2 separate regions of the Homo sapiens genome follow, and region 2 is linked to region 1. The links come from fine-mapping of genetic effects on plasma protein levels. Region 1 holds a variant in brackets. A gene starts in the other region. All regions are shown on their forward strands.

Region 1 (2,917 bases):
GAAAGGGACTGGAGGTGAAGGCGACCTCACCTGTGAGGCTCAGCACCCACTGGGCTCCCAGCACATTTCCCTGAGCCTCTCTGTGCAGAGGGAGCTGCTGGACGGGTGCTGGGGCAGGCAGCCTGGTCAGGTGTTGGGCTGTGAGAGGGGCCTAGACCTAGGAACAAAACCTCACCCTCTTCTCCCCACTCCCAGGAAGTCCCTCTGGGTGCAGATGTGCGAGTGAAGATCAGGAGGGCTCCCAGCCCCTGGTTCTCACCTAATCAAGGGGCGCTCATGGGCACTGGTTTTTCCTTCACCCGTGGCCTCACCTGGGGCTACTACTCCAGGTGAGCAGGGCTGCTCTTTTCTAGGGAAGCCGAGGGATTGGCCCCCGAGTTCCAGATGGGGCTGAGCTGTCCTGTCCCGCCTGAGTTAGAATTGAAGTGGCCGATGCTAATCTGAGGCCGGTGTTGGCTCTACAGGTGTGGAGGCCCCCAGGGGAGCAGGGCTGAGAGGCCTGACTGAGCCCCTCCTGCTCAAGACAGAACTCAGATGAGGACACCCAGCCCTGCGGGACAGATGCAGGACATCACTGTCAGCCATGGCTCAGCCCTTCTGACCACTGAGATGCTGCAACTTCCCCTCCTGGGAGGGAGCGATTGGGCAAACACTTACCCTTTGCTGGAAATCTCAAGGCACAGCACGGGTGCTCACAATCTGAATACAGAACGAATGAATGAATGAATGAATGAATGAATGAAATGTCTTTCCTTATCTCATGTGAGAGACTTGACAGTTCTTTCACTCTCCAAGTAACATCAGCTTCCCCTGTCCCAGCCCAGTCTGTCCTGGGCAGACAAGATTAATTAAGTGGCTCCTGGGCAGACATTGGTGCAGGAGACAGGGCCCAGGAGACCTGTGTGATTTGGGCAATTCGCTTTCTATCTCTGTCCATTCATGCTGCTACAACAAAATACCATAAACTGGCCAGTTTATAAACAACAGAAATTCATTTCTCACAGTTCTGGAGGCTGAGAAGTCCAAGACCAAGGTGCCAGCAGGTTTGGTGTCTGGAGACAGTTTGCTTCCTCATAGATGGTGCCTTTTCCTTATGTTCTCATGTGGTGGAAGGGCTGTGCAAATTCCCCTGGGTCTCTCAGATGAGGGGACTAATCCCATTAGACTAATCCCAGAGTCCTCATAGCCTAATCGCCTCCCAAATCATTATACCTTCTAATACTATCACATGGGGATTCAAATTTCAACAAATGAATTTTGAGGTGACATATTCAGACCATAGCACTTGTCACTGTGGACCTTGATGTCTTCCTCTCCGAACTGTGGAAGTGGGAGTAGAGGGCTTGTCAGCTCCCCTGGGTCATATGTGGTTCACAAGTTCCTCCTTTCTACAGATTCT[G/T]TGGCTTCCTTAAGTCTCTCCTTCCCATTTTTTTTTCTGATTTTAATTGCAAACTGGGGACTGTGGGAAAGAGATGGGCCATGGTCTAGCCCTTCTGAGGCAGGAGGAGCATAGACCAATGGGGCAGGAGCATAGCAAAGAGAATTAAAAGTTGGATAAAGGGCAGAATAAGTAAAAGCAGAGAGCAGAAGCAAGGTGAGGGGACGGGTGAGCAAGAAGCAAGAGGCAGAAGTTGAGCAGCCAAAACAAAAAGTAAGATAGAGAAGTGAGCAAGGACACCCGTGGCCAGCAGGATCTGGACCAAACCAGTAAGGGGCAGTTCTTCAGAGCTATGCATGTGCATTAGAGAGAAAAAGTATCCTTAACATGACCCTGTATGATAATCAGCTCATTAAAGTTCATGCATATGGACTGCATATTATCCATGTACTTAAAATTATGGGATGGGTCAAAGTAACTAAGCAACATACTTAACCATCAAAAAGGCAGGCACTGGCCAGGCGCGGTGGCTCACGCCTGTAATCCCAGCACTTTGGGAGGCCAAGGTGGGCGGATCACTTGAGGTCAGGAATTCAGGACCAGCCTGGCCAACCTGGTGAAACCCCATCTCTACTAAAAATACAAAAATTAGCCAGGCATGGTGGCGGGCGCCTGTAGTCCCAGCTACCAGGGAGGCAGAGGCAGAAGAATCGCTTCAACCCAAAAGGTTGAGGTTGCAGTGAGCCAAGATTGTGCCACTGCACTCAAGCTTGGGTGACTTCGTCCCCACCTCACCACCACCCCTTCCCCCCGAAAAAAGGCAGACACTGGATAGAGATTTGGCAGCCTTGGGAAGCGAAGAAAAACAAAAAAACAAACAAACAAACATAAAAAGACCCAAAGTAATGCTGATCTCACCTCATAGAGATCAGTTCGCTCTCCCTCTCCAAGAGTGTGATACTGTGCTTAATAAACTGCTGCTTCTTGCTTTGCTGTCTGTGTGTGTCTCATCCAATTCTTTGTTTAAGACACCAAGAGCCTGGAACTGCATGGCACCATCCGGTAACACTTCTGCCCACTGAGATACTGCAAATATCCTTATGGGGAGAGAGTGGCTGGGCAAGGAGGAGGCGCCCAGGAGGCAGATTGGTCTGCAGGATGAGATACTAGCTGCAAATGCAGGGATTGGAGGTGAGGGCGGGGAGTGGCTTCGGACGCCCAAACCCAGCATCTTCCTCTCTCAATCGTTACAGCCAAATGATCTCTAGGTTATGGACAATTAGGGGACAGTGTGGGCTGAGCAGATCAATGCAGTTGTATGGAAGAAAACAGACTGGGATTTTCTATGTATACAACATCTTCAGGAAAACCTACGTGAAGTTAGAATTTTCAAGGCAGCATGTGCCGATGATAAAACTACATAGAACAGCAGGAAGACTATTATCATTAAAGTGAGGCTAGGGGCTCCTTCAGGAGGGAGCGGGGGCATGGCCAATAGGAAAGGGGAATGTAAGGGTGAATGAATTAATAAAATCTCTT
Region 2 (2,917 bases), not on the chromosome of region 1:
AGCAACCACCTAGGACAGGATCTTAACCTGGATCCAGCAGGCTTCTAGAAGGCCTGTGGCTGAGCTACAGAAGGCTCAAAACCCCTGGAAATTGTGTGCAAAATTTTATCTGCCTCTGTTCCTTTTCCGTGGGAATAGGGTCCAAAACGTCATTAAAATTCTTCCAGGGATCTTGGATATAAAGAAGAGTTAAGAAAAGTCAATCTGGAAGGAATCTTTAGAAAGATTTTTCTATGTTAGCTACAGAGACAAGCAGGTGGAATCTGCATTTTAAAAAAGAAAAAGCATAACCTCATCATTTTTGCTATTTTAAAGCTGCGAAGCTTAGAGTTAAGCGGGAACCATTTTTTCTTTAAAATTTCAAGTCTTTATGTATTATTGTCAAATACTTTCTAATTAAAAAATAAAAATCTTGGTTTTCTGGTTTTACATTGATAAATTATAAAATAGATATTAAATATATTCTGTGACAAAGCAGTACAACTTGTACACTGTAGATTTTGAATAAATAACGCTTTCCTTGGTAAAATATAGTGTAAACTGCTGAGGGTCCTTTAGTATCAGTTGCAAGGTTAAGCTACTTGGGGGAACACAGATAAATGTGGCATGGTTACAGGCCTACAGCAGCTTAAAATGCATTTGGGAGGCACATAACCATATGTCAGCAATTAGATTGTATAAACATTGGTCAATTAGCATTTTATGACATTAGTATTTTATTTTTCAAAAGTAATTTAACGTAAGTAACTGATATTATAAGTTCCTATATTTTAAAATAAAACAAGACTTAAAAGAATATAAAGAAGAGCTATCATTACTTGTAGAATACTTTTCAAAGAGTCGTTTTTGTGGTTGACGTCAATTTATTCTAATACCATTAATATAAATAGAGATAAAACTATGAAACCAGCAAAGGAAATCCAGTTCAGTAAAAGAAGAAAAATAAAAATTCATTTCACTTTCCTACCCTTTACTGAAAGCTTCACTTTTAAATAGCAAAAGGTGATTATTTAAATATAGCAAAGCTTGACCACTGATTAAGTAATCTGGAAAATTTGCTTGCTTACCTGACTTGGCCAGTGCTCTTGTTGGAAATGTATTCTGGATGTTTCTGGTTAAAAATGGGTGTGGATTTATAGACACACACACACACACCTGACCTACAACCTCACCTGCATAGAAACAAGAGCATAGTTACCGGAAAACAAACTTAGAAAAATAGGCTGGTCTGAAAAACTCTGTACTTCTTTCCAGTTCTCATGCTTCTCACACTAAAAAAGCTCTATTCTTTTTCTCTAAATTAAGATTGAATGTCCTCATAAAATAAGGTCAAATACCATCTTTGTGCTTCTTTCTCTTTTACCTTTTATTTCCCAAGGTAGTTTAATGTTTGGCTGAAGTTCAGCACAAAAAAAAAAAAGAAAAGGAAGAAAGAAAACGGAATGAATTTAAGAACTGTGTGCATGCCATTGTTCAAATAGAAATTCCTAAGGGTTACTCTGTTTACAGGAATATAATTAACAGCTAAAGAGATTGGGTCCTTTTTTTTTTGAGAGAGAAGGAAATAAAAATTCTGTTTTAAAGTTGAACATTTTCATAATTTGATTATTCTTTACAATTTTTCTATAAAACCTTTACTGCACAAAAAATTAGAAAAACAGGCCATTAGATAAGTTTAAATTTATCTAATAGTTAGATACTGTTGAATTAATTGAGAGTAATTATTTAATTACTGTTAAAATAACGTAAGGCAGTGTGTCATCAAATTTGGCATACCTGTTTTTTGTACAGCCCAGGAAACAGGAACGGTTTTGACATTTTTAAACGGTTGGGGAAAAAAACCCAAAAGAATCATATTTTGTGACATGTGAAAGTTATATGAAATTCAATTTCAGTGTCCTTAAGTAGAGAGAGATGTGGCGGATGGCATGCAGCCATGTGCATTTGCTTACTAGTGTCTATGGCTACTTTTGCACTGCAACAGCAAAGTCCGGTACAGTCCAGGACAGTGGATACCAAAATCTGTGCACACTCAAAGTCCCATATCTGGCCCTGCGTAACCCACAGATATGAAAAGTTGGTCCTCCGCATATGCAGGTTTGGCATCCCGTGAACACAGTATTTTTGATCCACTTTTGGTTGTGGATACAGAACTTGCCCATATGAAGGAATATATTAAAAAAAAATCCTTCTCTAAGTGAACCCACACAATTCAAATCTATGTTGTTTAAGGGTCAACTGTGCTTGTGACAGGGACTGTATGATCTGCAAAACCTAAAATATTTACTATCTTTAGTAAATGTTTACAGAAAATGTTTGTTGAACCTTAATCCAGGGTATTGTTTATAAATTCCTTCCTTCCTTCTTTCCTTCCTTTCTTCCTTTGCTTCCTTTCTTCCTCTCTCCCTCCCTCCCTTCCTCTCTTCCTCCCTTCCTCTCTTCCTCCCTTCCTCTCTTCCTCCCTTCCTCTCTTCCTCCATCCCTCCATCCCTCCATCCCTCCCTTCTCCCACCCTTTTTTTGTTTCTTTTTTTTGTGGGGAAGGGTCTAATTGCTCTGAATACATTAACAAATATACTGTGCAAGAATGGGAGTGATGATTGTCTTGCTCCTGATGTTAAAGCGGGTGTGCTTCCAGTATTTTAACTTTAGATGTAGTGCTGGATTTGGCTGAGTTGACCATGTTAAGAAGGTAACCATTATTCTTAAACTACATCTCTTAAAAGCAGGACTGTTGGATTTTGTTCTATAAAGATGGGCATATGGATTTTCTCATTTGTTATAGAAAATTTTACTGTTTTCCTAATTAAACTTTCCATTGTCCTGAAAGAAACTTCATGTAGCTAGGTTGTATATTCTTTAACTGTACTGCTGATTTGTGTACTTGTCTAACTGTGCTTTCTTCCTTACATAGGATT

Alleles and levels. Alleles are on the strand shown, and positions count from the first base shown. The strength of an association depends on the size of the effect and on how common the allele is.
For the plasma level of the protein whose gene starts at base 1,107 in region 2, allele G in region 1 goes with a higher level than allele T (weak association).

Evidence for each region. PIP is the chance, under the fine-mapping model, that this variant and not a neighbour inherited with it causes the effect. The UK Biobank Pharma Proteomics Project read protein levels with antibody pairs (Olink). The fine-mapping took linkage between variants from a reference panel, not from the people measured, so its PIPs are less certain.
Region 2: it holds the start of AGR3, and the variant in region 1 is fine-mapped to the plasma level of the AGR3 protein (UK Biobank, PIP above 0.99).

Annotation. Positions count from the first base shown.
Region 1 is chr19:51,138,128-51,141,044 of GRCh38, forward strand. It overlaps LOC124904749 (a long non-coding RNA gene), which reads right to left and starts at 2,383. Exons shown (of 3, transcript XR_007067310.1): 1 at 2,297-2,383; 2 at 658-699. The variant G/T (reference allele first, on the strand shown) is at 1,400.
Region 2 is chr7:16,880,877-16,883,793 of GRCh38, forward strand. AGR3 (anterior gradient 3, protein disulphide isomerase family member) reads right to left here and starts at 1,107. Exons shown (of 8, transcript NM_176813.5): 1 at 1,068-1,107.